Linked DNA regions of Homo sapiens. The protein of the gene in region 2 interacts with the protein of the main gene of each other region in a pairwise test. Each region holds a gene or a part of one and is shown on either strand. Other genes may lie near its edges.

Region 1 (7,023 bases), on a different chromosome or scaffold from region 2:
AAGAACCTGCCACTGTCAGAGCCCTGGTCTCCCTGTCTGGGGCCAGGACCCGCGTTTGGGGATGTGCTTTAAGGGAGATGCCAACTGAAGTATTTTTGTCTTGCTAGCTCCGTTGCTAAGCAACCACTGAGCGGCAGCAACAGCTGGGGGAGAGTGGCTGGGATGGGAGGCCTGGGGACCACCCTCAAACCTGTCTGTTGCACACACCTCTCCAGTGCAGGCAGGGTTGGGGGGGGGTTGGAAAGCTGCAGAGGGAGGAGGGGTGGCTCAGTGTTGGGGGTCCTTCTGAGCCAGGAGCCTCCCCTCTTACTGCCCTTCTCCCGTTACAGAGGCTGTGATCAATAGCCAGGAATGGACTTTGAGCCGCTCCATTCCTGAACTGCGCCTGGTAGGTAACCCAGTCCCCTTGCCTATAGGGAAGGCTGACCTCCCACCCACTGCACTCTCAGCTCTCTCCCTTCACCTCTCCTTCTCTCTCTCTCTCTCTTTGGGAATAGGGAATCGTTTTCCAGTTCTCCTGAGAGTCTGCCTTCATAGCACCAACATGGGGTTTGCTACAGCCTCCTCACAAGTTTTTCCTATCTAGTCTTTATGCAGCCATCCCCTTTTTCCTGTTTGTTCATGGTCCTCCTCCAGGCTTCTCATTTCTGGTATCTGCCCTTTGGCCTTCATGTTGTACTGCCTAGAATTGGGTAAAGTTTTCCAACTAGTGCCTAGAGCTGTGACATGCTACAAACACACACACACAGAGACACACACACACAACATATCTAGTATGTTTTCTAAACAACCCAACACACAAAAAAGCTGGTACTGAATTGCTGACATTCTTCAGCTCGTGCTCCACTTTGAGCTTGGGATCATTTCTTACCACACTCATGCCCTGATCCTCCCAACTGCTCTGATCCCCCCAGCTGCTCTGATCCTCCCAACTGCTCTCTCTGGAATGACTGTCATCCAGGCCCTGTAGGGTCCTGCTTGGATGACTTATCTCTCTGGGTTTTCTGGAGTGTCCAGACCCATGCATCCTGCCTTCTCTTATATCCCACAATTTCTGCTCCACAACCTTGCCCTCAGGGTGTGCTGGGCGATGCCAGGAGTGGGAAGTCATCGCTCATCCACCGATTCCTGACTGGCTCATACCAGGTGCTGGAGAAGACAGAGAGTGAGTTCTGAAGAGCCATAGTAAGCTAACCATTGGGGTCAGGGATCCAGGAGTGAGATCAATGATTAGGCAGGTGTGGAGACCAGGGGGGAAGGATGAGGCCATAATAGCAAAAGCACTGGGAGCATGGGGAGGTTTGGTGACCTGTCACCTCTGACCTGTTACCCCTTCCAACTCTTCTGGACAGGTGAGCAGTACAAGAAAGAAATGTTGGTGGATGGACAGACACATCTGGTGCTAATCCGAGAGGAAGCTGGGGCACCTGATGCCAAGGTGAGGGTGGAGGTGGTGGGGGACAGGCTGGCTGGGGTCAGCACTGGCCAAAGGAGAGGGCTCTGGTTTCCCAGGTCTTCATCTGGATTGGGTCCAGAGGAGTAGACCTGTCTGACTTTCCATTTGCTCCCTCACTCCCCGCAAGTTCTCAGGCTGGGCAGATGCTGTGATCTTCGTCTTCAGCCTGGAGGATGAGAACAGTTTCCAGGCTGTGAGCCGTCTCCATGGGCAGCTGAGTTCCCTTCGCGGGGAGGGACGAGGAGGCCTGGCCTTGGCACTGGTGGGGACACAAGGTAAGGAGGGGTTAGGAAAGCACTGCTTTCAAGGGAGGCCCTAAGGAGGCTACTGGGATATTGCCCAACATGGGTGAGAACTTGGTAAGGTGTGGAAATGGCCACTTGGATTATAGTACCCTTCTGGAGGGAGCCTGGTCTCCAAATAAGGGAGTCATGAAACCAAACAATAACTTCCCAAGGTCTGAGCAGAGAAAAGGGGATCTCCAGGGAGGAAAGGACAGCTATAGTAGCCATCTCCTTGCCTCTCCTGAAATGTCACCTACCTTGTGTTCTGACACTGCCATTTCCTAGTGCCACCATCCTAGGACACAGAAAATCTCAAGTCCTAGGGTGGATAGGAAACCTTTTCCATCTTCCTTTTTGCGACAGCTGGGTAAGGCTGACACCTTTTAAAGGAACTTATCCAAAAACAAAGTGAAAACACAAAGGAAATGATGATGAAAAGAAGAGAGCAGAAAACCTTTTAGTTCTCAGAGAAGTGACTCAGAGGCTCCCAGACTCTGCCAGGGCCAGGAAATGCTTTTCCAGCACTCCCCTGTGTCGAGCTGGTGGGACTTGGTCTGGATGCCTGTTCTGCTGGTGCCTATCTCCACCTGTTGCTTGCATCCTGGTTTCTTGCTGCAGAGTGGGCAGTCCAGCCATGACCCATGGGCACCCAACCTTTTCCTAGTTCACAAGCTGGTGTCCTCCCACCAGTTCAGGGTTCTATGGATTTGCAGGGCAGGGTGATTGTCGCTCGCGCCTGGGTCTCAGCTATGTAGACCTTGTCAGGAAGCACCACTCAGCAGCTCTGGAGTATTCCTTGAGGACACACACACACACACACACACACACACAGCTCACCCAGCTAGGTGTGTGAACTGGGCCCAGTACTCAGAAAGGGCTTATGTACTCCCATTCCACCTGGTCACAGAAAAGATGATCTCTCACACCCCATCCCCAGTGGACCCAGCCTGAGGGCCCAGTGCAAGGATAAGGGAATTGTGAAAAATCGAACAAGGTGGGGCTCCTTGTTCAATCCTGCCCCTTTCCTGTCCCCTCAGACAGGATCAGTGCTTCCTCCCCTCGGGTGGTGGGAGATGCTCGTGCCAGAGCTCTGTGCGCGGACATGAAACGCTGCAGCTACTATGAGACTTGTGCAACCTATGGGCTCAATGTGGATCGGGTCTTCCAGGAGGGTGAGTGTAGTGATCTCCAGCATATGTGGGAAGCCAGAGCAAGGGGCCTGGGATATTCTCAGTGGTCAGGCATCCAGGCCTCTCTCTGTGAGTGACAGGAAATTAGCCTTTGTGGGAGGGAGGAGAGATCAGGGAGGCCAGAGAAGGTTTGCTTAATAGTCGCAAGGTCTTTCTGGGCTGGAGGAGCTGGCAAGGCCACAGGTGGCATGGAGGCCACAGTGACAAGGAAGTTGGGTCCTGTGTTGTCTACTGGGGATTTCTCAAAGCTGGGCATGGAAGGGTGGTCTTGGGTATCTGGCCTGCTCACACCTCCTTCCGTCAACTCCCCTCAGTGGCCCAGAAGGTGGTGACCTTGCGCAAGCAGCAACAGCTTCTGGCTGCCTGCAAGTCCCTGCCCAGCTCCCCAAGCCACTCAGCTGCATCCACTCCGGTAGCTGGCCAGGTGAGTTGGGGTTTCAGAGTCTGCAGAGGGGCCGGTAAGATGCAGAGGGGCTGGGGATCCTAGGACAGGTACAGAGTACCCAAGGAGGTTCAGGGAGTGGGGAAACAGATGGAAATGGCAGTGAAACTATTGGCAGAAAGTGCATTGGACTGGAAATCAACCAGATTTGAGACATCATTTGCAGTGTCCTTAAGCAACTCACCTAACCTCCCAAGGCTATCAGGAAGATTGTATGACACAATACTTGTGAATCAACCTTTACAACATTTAAAGCATTGTCACAATGTTAGTGAGGATTTTAAAAATTATTAATGACAACATAAATAAATGGTGAGGTGATCAAGGAATGTCTCAAATTCCCCATAACGAGATATGAGTGTAGCTTGGTGGAGTAGGGGGCATCTCAGCTCTGCTGACTCTTCCATATGTGCCCAGGCTAGTAACGGGGGCCACACTAGCGACTACTCTTCTTCCCTCCCGTCCTCACCGAATGTTGGTCACCGGGAGCTCCGAGCCGAGGCAGCTGCAGTGGCTGGATTGAGCACCCCAGGGTCCCTGCACCGGGCAGCCAAGCGCAGGACCAGCCTTTTTGCGGTATTGGACATGGACATGCTGACCCCCATCCTCCTGTCCCCCATGACCTGCCCATCTTCCCTAGTCCCTAGACTCCTCTGTTGGGCCCTTCTTCATCTATCTTCCCTATCGTCACATCAGTGTATCCCTCTATCCATCCTCAAACTGATTCCAATAACCATTCCAGAATCGTCGGGGTAGTGACTCCGAGAAACGAAGCTTGGATAGTCGGGGAGAGACAACAGGGAGTGGGCGAGCCATCCCCATCAAACAGGTGAGTGATCCAGGGGCTGGGACAGGCTAGGGGCAGCTGGTCTTAGTTGGCTTTTTTCCCACATGTGTCTTTCCCCTTTCTCCAGAGCTTCCTACTAAAACGAAGTGGCAATTCCTTGAACAAAGAATGGAAGAAGAAATATGTAACCCTGTCCAGTAATGGCTTTCTACTCTACCACCCCAGTATTAACGTGAGTGGCAGAGACTGGGCCACATTGGCCAGCTTTGGATTTCCCTCAAGTTCTACCTGTCTATGCCTCTGACAAAGCACTAACCTCATTTCTAGGAAGTGCTAGTCCTCTTCTCTTAAGTTTAGCAGGCATGTGTTAAGAGCCCACCATGTGCCCATGCCAGGAATGTAAAGGTAAATACATTGCCCCAGGAACTTGCAGTCTAGTGGGAGAGCACCCAGGAAGGGAACGCTTTCTGGAGGAGACAATTGCTGGGCCAAGTCTGATGGGCCCATCCCCTAGATGTTCATCACAACCCATTTGGCCCCCAAGACCCCTCCCCAGTCCCTCTCTATTCTGTACCATGTTGACTGCTTCCCAGCATACCAAGGACCCCAACCTTCCCTACACTCTCGGCCCTGTACCCCTCCAGGATTACATCCACAGTACCCACGGCAAGGAGATGGACTTGCTGCGAACAACAGTCAAAGTCCCGGGCAAGCGGCCCCCGAGGGCCATCTCTGCCTTTGGCCCCTCAGCCAGCATTAACGGGCTCGTCAAGGACATGAGCACTGTCCAGATGGGTGAAGGCCTGGGTGAGTAAGGTTTATGACATAGGAGCAGAAGAGGGGCCAGGGCTGGGGAAAAAGAGGGGTAAGAGGGAAGAGGGGGCTGGCACTGGGCGAGTAGGAAGCTGGGTGATAAAGAGGGACCACATAAGGAATGGGGCCAGAAGAAAGAGGCTCACTGAGGTTTCATCTTCTTCCGACAGAAGCCACTACTCCCATGCCAAGCCCTAGCCCCAGCCCCAGTTCCCTGCAGCCACCACCAGATCAGACATCCAAACACCTGCTGAAGCCAGACCGGAATTTGGCCCGAGCCCTCAGCACGGGTCAGTGGGGATGACCTTCCATCTGCTGTCTTCCACACCCAAATAGGATGAGTGTGGGAAATGAATATGGGGTGAAGGCTTGGAGGCTGGAATAAATGCATGAGTGAACACATGGAGCCCCACACATGAATAAGTTCAATCATACCATGTCTATCATAATGGTTAAGACAAGTGGACTCTAACGTCAACTGCCTGAGCTTGAATCCTGGCTTGCCACATGGGCAAGTTACTTGACCTCTCCGTGCCTCAGTTTCCTCATCTGTAACATGGAGATAATAGTTTCTACCTCAGAGGGTTGCTTTGAGGTTTAAACAAACTGAGAATATTGTCTAGTACATAGTCAGCCATGTTTGACATGTTTGAAAAAAAATATATATATATAGTATGCAAATAACATTGTAAACAAATGATCCTTACAACAGTTTTGTCAGGTCAAGATTATTACCCCTATTTCAGAGATAAAGAAACTGAGGCTCAGAAGATTAAGTGCCTTGCTCAAGGTCTTAAGGCCAGTAAGTGGCAGAACCAGGATCTGAGTGCAGGACTGACTCTAAACCTCTCATCTCCCTGCATCCCCAGGAATGATCAAGGGGGAACTCCTGGAGAGGGACAGTTGAGGAGGGGAGCCCTAAAATGCCAAAGCTAGTTCAGGGAATGAGACAGGCTATCAAGAAATCAGGAAATCTGTGGAGGGGGCTACTGAGGCAGCTGTGTCTTCCTCCCTAAGACTGTACCCCATCTGGAGACCTGAGCCCCCTGAGTCGGGAACCCCCTCCTTCTCCCATGGTGAAGAAGCAGAGGAGGAAAAAATTGACAACACCATCCAAGACTGAAGGCTCGGCTGGGCAGGCTGAAGGTGAGGCTCTGGCAGGCACTTCCACTCCCACCCAGAACCCTCATCCCCAACATCAGCTCCCTGGCCTAACTCCTGCAGCAGGAGGAAAAGTGCCTGAGCTGAGTGCTTGACTACCATTACCACTGCACACAACTTAGTGAAAGAGTGGATGGACATCCCCCAGCCCCTGTCCTTCTTTCCTTGTTCCCCAGCTAATTCCTTTCCCCAGCCCCTGTTCTCAACGATGTCCATGTCTATAGCTCCTGCTCCCTCTCCTAATGACGTTCTAGTTCCTCTTCCTTCCCTCAACTCCACTTACCACCCCAGCCCCTGCACCCGGCAGCCCCGCTGATCCCCAGTGATTCAGCCCCTTATCTCAGCATCTCCCACTGATTCCCCAGATCCTGGATTCTGTGACCACCCAGCCCCTTCTCCCAATAACTTTCTTTCTTTTTTTTTTCTTTTCTTTTTTTTTTTTTTTTTTGAGATGGAGTCTCACTCTGTCACCCAGGCTGGAGTACAGTGGTGCGATCTCGGCTCACTGCAAGCTCTGCCTCCCGGGTTCACACCATTCTCCTGCCTCAGCCTTCCAAGTAGCTGGGACTACAGGCACTTGCCACCATGCCCGGCTAATTTTTTGTATTTTTTAGTAGAGACTGGGTTTCACTGTGTTAGCCAGGATGGTCTTGATCTCCTGACCTCGTGATCTGCCCGCCTCGGCCTCCCAAAGTGCTGGGATTACAGGCGGTGGGGATTACAGGCATGAGTCACCGTGCCCGGCCTTCTCCCGATAACTTTCTATTGCCAAGTGCTCCCCAACAGCCCTTGACCATAGTGATCCCCATTCTTGTCCCTCAGTGATTCCCCGCACCCCCACCGCCACCAGCCCCAGGGCCCTCTCATCTCAGCCCTGCGCCCCAGCTTCT
Region 2 (7,023 bases):
AGGAGCTTCTGCGGAAGCAGGCTGCTGGAGGAGGTGATCCAGAGAGCCTGACTCCAAGGAACAGGGACACCTGGGGACAAGGCATGCTGAGGGGTGGAACAGAGCTGTCTGCAGGCCTGGGAGGCCCTGCGCTCTATTGCAGGATGCGGAGGCAGGGCTGTCATCGGACGTGGAGGGAGCGTGTTGGTGTCAGACTCAGGAGGGAAGGATGACTGGGGAGGCACCAGCCCCTCCCTGGCCAGCCCTCAGGGGTCCCCATCACTCCTAGGACATTTCCCCGACTCCCTAGCATGGCACTCAAGGCTCCTGATGGCCTTCACTCAACCTCCCACCTGGCCTTATTACCCATTACTTTGCTTCACACTCTGCCTCCTCCGGACCCTACTGTTCGCCACAAGCTCCCTGCACATTTCTACCCCAGGGCCTTTGCTCAAGCTGTTCTCTCTCCCCATAGTGCTTTTTCTCCCCACATCCACCTGTCTAAAGCCTCCAGGCGCAGCTCCAGTGCCCCCTCCTCCGGGAAGCCTTTCTGATCTACCACGAAGGGGTCTCCACTCCCCAGAGTGACTTTATCTGATCTCTCCCATGACTATGAGCCTGTGGAGGGCAGGGAGCCATGGCCAGCTCTTTGTGGGTCTCCCATTATCTCAGCACAGTGTCTTCTACATGGTATGACACATGCATTACCTTACACACAACACATGTGTTTTGAGTTGACCTGACTTGGACATCGTGGGAAGGACCACAGGAAGATCGATCATAGCCACCATCTAGCAAAGGCCTGCCACATGCTGGCCCCTGCGCAAGATGTCACACATGTGTGATCTCATTTGATCCCCCTGGGAGATGGCTATTAGCATGCACAGGACACCCATGGGGAAGCTGAGCCTCACAGCCACTAAGAGGCTTGCCTCCCAGGCTTACACGGTCCTGTCCAGCTTCAGAGCCAAGGTCCATGCAGAACCTCGCGGGGGCCCTCATTTCTTGATCTTAATGAACCCCCCTTTCAGGGGCAGGGATCAGGCTCTCCTAGGAAGAGGAGGGCAGGCAGAAGGGAGAAGAGAGCCTGGAGCCGAGATGCTTCCAACCCACCCCAGAGGATTCCTCACTACCCAACCCCCAACCCCAGACTTGGGTGGGCTGGGCTCTCTCTGCTGCTGTCTCTCCCCGGGACACTCTGCTCAGCTGCCTTAGATGCCCTGGCCCAGGCTAGAGGAAGGCAGGCAGCCAGGAGAGGGCAGGGAAACCCTAGCAGAGAGCCTAGAAAGCCGCTTTTGCCCCAGCTCGGTCCTGATGCTGGTGAGTGCCCCTCTCTGGTCCTGTCCTTATATACAAAATGGGAACAAGGATTCCTGCCCACTCACCATCAACTATCAAACGTTTATCAGGTGCCTCTAAGTGCCAAGGGAGGGCTGGCTGCAAACCTGAGCAGGGAGGGAGAATTAGGTGAGGCAGCTCCTGCTCAAGGCCATGGTCACCAGCAGTGTGTTGTCACTGCCTCTGTCCCTGGGTCTCTGGATGCTGGCTTGAGACCTTGTCCCGCCTTTGTGCATCTTGGCTGAGTTGAAGGACCCACTTGCTGAAGGACCTTGGACCAATCACTTCCCCTCTCTGAGCCTCAATCTCCTTTTCTATAAGAGGTAGAGGCTTGGAAGTCCCAAGCTCCTTCCCCAGGCACCTCCCTTGTACGTTGAGATGGATGGCTGAGGCTGCTGAGGCCAGGTTATGGCCAGGTGCTCTCAGCAGCCTGGAGGTCCCTGATCCCTGGTGGCCCCTAGTGGACTTTGTTGTCCTGGACAACATCACAGAAGCTGGAGAAATAGGCCCGACCAGATCTACCTTCCCAAGTCTCTCCGAAGGATTGGGTGAAGGTATCCCAGTAGGGCCAGCTCTATGCGTGTGGCCACCTATCCAATTGCACAGGGCCCCATGCTCAGAAGGGTCCTGCACCTTGTTTAATACTCTGATGTCTACATCTTGAAATTCTTAATCATTTTTGAGCATGGGCCCTGTACTTCCATTTTGCACTGGGTCTTGCAAGTTCTGTGGTGAATCCTGCCTCACACCCTCATATGGCTTCAGGCACAAAGTTTCTCAGCCCCAGACGAGACCCCAGAGCGGGATCCTGCTACTGCCAATGCCTGTGCCCCTGTGAAGGGAGGGTAAAATAGTCACACTGGGCCCTTGACATTGGAGGGGGAAGAGGGAGAGAAGGTGGGTTGGGAAAAACAGGCAGCCCCAAATCTCTGGCACCTGAGATTAAGGTGGAGAGAGCTTCTGGGCTGAGGATGGTAGGTTTGCTGGGGGTTGGGGAGGCCCCTGCTGCAGATACAAGATCAGATAAGCCTGAGAGCTGGCTCCCCATGCTGCCAGCCATGAGGGGTTAACAGCAAAGGGATGGACCTGAACCTTCGGAACTGACACCTTCCTGAGCAGCCAATCAGTTGCCAGGACTCGTGGGGCTGCACCGTGATTGGCTCTTGCCGCCTGCTCTGTTGTATAGACCCTATATTGGAGCCGGCAGGGCCCTGTGAGTTCTTTGCATCAAATCCCCCGTTTCGCAGATGGGGAGCCTGAGTCTGCTCTGTGGATGGCCCCGTGCTAGGTGTTGGGGATACAGAAACATGGCAGGAAGACAGTGCCCTCGTGTGCCTGTGGCATAGAGGGGCGCCCCCTTACACCTCACCTCGTTAGAACCAAGCTCGACGGAAGCCCTGGTGAGCTTTTAAAACTGAAAGTTAGGCTGGGCGCCGTGGCTCATGCCTGTAATCCCAGCACTTTGGGAGGCTGAGGCAGGCAGATCGCTTGAGCCCATGAGTTCGAGACCAGCCTGGGCAACATGGAGCAGAAACCCCATCTCTACAAAAAATACAAAAATTAGCCGGGCATGGTGGTGCATGCCTGTAGTCCCAGCGACTCGGGAGACTGAGGTGGGAGGATCGCTTGAGCCTAGGAGGGTGCGGCTGCATTGAGCTGTGATTGTGCTACTGCACTCCAGCCTGGGCAACAAAGTGAGACCCTGTCTCAAAAAATAAAATAAAATAAAAAGAGCCTCCCAAAAAACAACTGAAAGTTAACCTGGCCTAAATCTCTCCTGTGGCTCCCTTCACACTTAAAACTCATCTTAATGCGCAAACCGTGAACAACAGCCCCCGTCTCCCCAGCCTCATTTACCACACCCCTTACCCACTTCACTCCAAGTACACAGACTGCCTTGATGATCTCTGCCTCCCCCGAACCTCTTCACTCCCCTTTATGACACCCAGAACCCTCCCTGCTTCCTGTCATTCAGTTCCCTGCTTAAACATCGCCTCCTTGACCCCCTGTCTACAGCAGCCCCCCGTCTCCAACCTGCCCTCTCCATCCCACCACCCTGCTTGGCTGTCTTCATAGGCCCCCCGACAGCCCGACTTCATCTTGCTGCTCCTTTGCTGCCACTCCTCCTCTTGGATGGAAGCTCCCTGAGGACGGGGCCCTTATCTGCCTCACTCCCTGCCATCGCGCCAGTTTCTAGAACAGAGCTGAGCCCATTCCTGTTGCTCCGTCATGACTGCCTCCCCGACCCCGGGGAGGAAGGCAGGGCTCAGCTCTGCATGGAAGAATGTGTGCTGCTAATTGAGGTTGAATCATTTGGCACTTAATTTTCACTTTCATTTGAAATCCTCTCTTCGGTAAACTGGCGAATCCAGCCTGGGATTCCAGTGGACAGGATGACATCAGCCTCCCTAGCTGTGTGCGCCAGGCCCCACCAGGTTCTGCCTGGCCTCTCGGCAGCCCCATCCCTGCTCCTGCCGCTGTGTGTGTGGGTGCCTCATGATGTCCAGTGGCTCAAGCCTCTGCCTTAGCTCAGGCACCCCTTCTGTTGGGTATTCTGTTCCCTCCTGCTCCACCTCTCCCTGCCCCGTGACACCTCCAGCTGCCTTCATCTTTCAACCAATAGCACGGTAAGGGCCTCCCCTCCTGGCTGATGTGCCAGTTTCCCCCTCTGTTCCCCTCTGGCCCCTCCCTAAGACTTCTCCAAGAGGGTCCCTCCCTCCCTCCCTCCTTCCCTCCCTCCCTTCCTCCCTCCCTTCCTCCCTTCCTTCCTTCCTTCCTGACGGAGTCTCGCTGTGTCACCAGGCTGGAGTGCAGTGGTGCGATCTCGGCTCACTGCAACCTCTGCCTCCCGGGTTCAAGCGATTCTGCTGCCTCAGCCTCCCAAGTAGCTGGGACTACAGGCATGCACCACCACACCCAGCTAAGTTTTGTATTTTTGGTAGAGACAGGGTTTCACCATGTTGGCCAGGATGGTCTCGATCTCTTGACCTGGTGATCCACCTGCCTCAGCCTCCCAAAGTGCTGGGATTACAGGCGTGAGCCACCGTGCCCAGCTGGGACCTTTTATAAATGCAAATCTGATCTCATCACCTCTGCCTGGCTTGGCCCCTTGCTGGTTCCCCATTGCCCTGAGAACCAAGACCTGACTGGTCCGTGCCCCTATGACATCAATCCTTTCTCACCCCCAAGTCACTAGCCATGCGTGCCCTGTGGTCTCTGGGTTCCTTGAATGCACCATCCTTCCTCCGTGGGGGTGGGCTTCGGTGGTGGTCAGGTGATACCTGGGTGCTGGGGCCCCTTCCACCTGCCCCATTCCCCTCCTCCACTCCATTCTAGGGCCAGGCCTCAGAGTTCTACAGGCACTAGATGAAAACATGGTCTCTGCTCTCTCCAACTCCATTTCCAGCCATGAAATAGCAGCGATGCTTACCATGTGGGCCTTTCTGAATTGGGTAACAGGATCTAGCCTTGCTCTGCCACCCACTGGCTGGGAGATCTTGGGCAAGTCCCTTCCTCTCTGTAAGCCTCAATTTCTTCATCCGGAAAATGGGGTGAGGGTTGCCCATGGTGGTCTGTGCATAAGGTTCCTCTCTGGTCCTGGCTGCCTGTGGGTCTCTTAAGTAAGGGGGACCCTCAGGGGTGTCACACCATTGACACATTCCTGCACCTGTCCCTCTGGTCCTCTGGGGAGGGGCCCTGTGGCAGGGGCATTTGGGGACATGGAAAATGAGACTGCTTAGCTTCTCAGCATCTCCCAGTGGGGTGGCTTGAACATCCTCTGTTTTTTTGGATTCTCCTAATGGCTCCAAGAAATAGGTATTTTCCCCTCCACATTAAAGAGATTGAGGCTCAGAGAAGTTAGGTCACTCACCCAGGGTCACACAGCCAGGATGTCCTGGCTTCCCAAGGAACTCTGTGTTCCCGCCCAACAAGAAAGGTCCTTGACCTCTTCAGGCCTCAGTTTCCTCATCTGTCTAATGGGGGTAACTTAAGATCCTTTTGTCTTGGATCACATGAGACTTCAAGACCTAACATACAAAGACCCTCAGCCCCCTGCCTGGCCTCAGAGAAGGTGGCTGTTGCTTCTCAAGGTCCCAGCTCTTTCCCCATCACCGTGGCCCTGAGATTCCAGGGATGACCCAGAGGAGACAGGTGAATCTTGTGGGGCTTCTTGGCACTAGCACTGTGGCTGGACATTAGAGGAGAGAGTGTCCAAGCATTTCCCAAAAGTGTGTTTCTGGTCAAAACTGGAAAAACAACACAGGTGTGGCTTTTCCCATCATGCCTCACTGTGTCTCCCTGGACAGCGCCTTCTTCCTGAAATCCCACAGCAGTGTAGGTGGTACCCAGAGTAGGTGCACGCCAGCACCTGCTGTGCACCAGACCGCGGGCTGGCCCCAGGGTGCAGCGGCAAACAAATGAGGCTTAGTGCCTGCCACCTGGGATGCTGAGTTCCCCAAGGAGTGCTGGTTTAGGTGGGGTGGTAGCCCCGACATGGCTGGAAGTCAGGAAAGGCTTCTTGGAGGAGGTGACATTGAGCAGGGGCTGGAGGGATGAGTAAAAGTCAGCCAGCCTGGCAGTGGGGAGGAAGAGAAGGGAGAGAGGAAGGAGAGTGGGAAGTCAGGGGCCACTGTTTGCAGGCACTTTCCAGACAGGCGGGAACAGGGCCGTTTGAGGAACTGAGAGGTAACCAGGAATTCTGTCCAGGGCTGGACAGGCAAAGTGTATTAAAAAGGCTGGGCTGCCCACTTTTTGGGGGTGTGGGGGACTCCTCTCAGGAGAGGTGTCTTTTGTGTTACTCTGAAGTGTTAGCGCTTCTGCAGCCTAACATTGAGTAGCGTTCTCTGAGGACTTCCTGGAGGAGGTGGTTTAATTCCCTTCCACCTGCATTCACTGGGTGACAGGCCTGAGACTGTGGAGAATAAGCAGGCATCGGCCTGGCCCACACAGAACCCACAGCCCTTGAAGGGGTGGAGACTCACCAAGTGCCTGCTCGTGGTCCAGGCAAAGTAGTCACCTGAGAGAGGGAACCATGGGCTCTTTACAGGTAGAGGACGACGAAGCTCCGCCAGAGAGGAGGACTTGTCTGGGCAGGGTTTTGAAGCATGAATAGAAGTTGGGAGTGAAATGGGGCTGGAAGCGTATTCCAGAGGGAGATACAGACAGGATCAAAGGCTTGGAGGGCTGGGCAGCCTGGAGGGTGTGGGGGCCAGAGACCAGGTTGGTGAGAACATATGGACAGCTAAGGTGGGAAGGACATTCTGGGCAGGGGCTTTGTGTGGACCAGCACAGGGAGGTGGGCAGTGTGAGCCTTTCCCGGGAAACGGCTTGGCTGGTGTGCGAGGGGAGGAGTAGGAGGAGAAGTCAGAGGAGCCGGAGGTCTCAGTGGACCAGGTCAGGGCCTGTGTGGGGGACCACAGCGGGAAAAGTGACAGTGATTCCCTAACCCTCAGGGGCAGGCGGTGAGGGCATTCCCGGAGGCACAGCTGTGGCCTGGGGCAGTGAGCACTGGTCGTGGTCACTGGTTTCTGGTTTCTTACCTAGTTGGGTCACTCACTGGCTGTGTGGCCTTGGGCAAGTCACTGCATCTCTCTGAGCCAAGTTTTCCCTTCCACAGCGTGGGTAGCCAGCACCTTCCTCGCGGGGATGTGTGTAGCAAGAACTGGCTTGCAAAACCTCCCCTATTCCGAGCTTGGAGCCCTGGGA

What was found. Proteins that work in one complex are often made in the same cells at the same time.
Region 1: the proteins of RAC2 (region 2) and AGAP2 interact in a two-hybrid assay, tested with the Homo sapiens proteins (one study listed by BioGRID).

What each region holds. Positions count from the first base shown.
Region 1 is NC_000012.12:57,728,734-57,735,756, reverse strand, and holds part of AGAP2 (arf-GAP with GTPase, ANK repeat and PH domain-containing protein 2), read left to right. Parts: intron 1-329; coding exon 330-388; intron 389-1,077; coding exon 1,078-1,165; intron 1,166-1,352; coding exon 1,353-1,438; intron 1,439-1,583; coding exon 1,584-1,731; intron 1,732-2,777; coding exon 2,778-2,912; intron 2,913-3,244; coding exon 3,245-3,354; intron 3,355-3,789; coding exon 3,790-3,948; intron 3,949-4,114; coding exon 4,115-4,201; intron 4,202-4,286; coding exon 4,287-4,391; intron 4,392-4,803; coding exon 4,804-4,966; intron 4,967-5,142; coding exon 5,143-5,262; intron 5,263-5,989; coding exon 5,990-6,118; intron 6,119-7,023. UniProt on the Homo sapiens protein: GTPase-activating protein (GAP) for ARF1 and ARF5, which also shows strong GTPase activity. Isoform 1 participates in the prevention of neuronal apoptosis by enhancing PI3 kinase activity.
Region 2 is NC_000022.11:37,234,258-37,241,280, reverse strand, and holds part of RAC2 (ras-related C3 botulinum toxin substrate 2), read left to right. Parts: intron 1-7,023. UniProt on the Homo sapiens protein: Plasma membrane-associated small GTPase which cycles between an active GTP-bound and inactive GDP-bound state.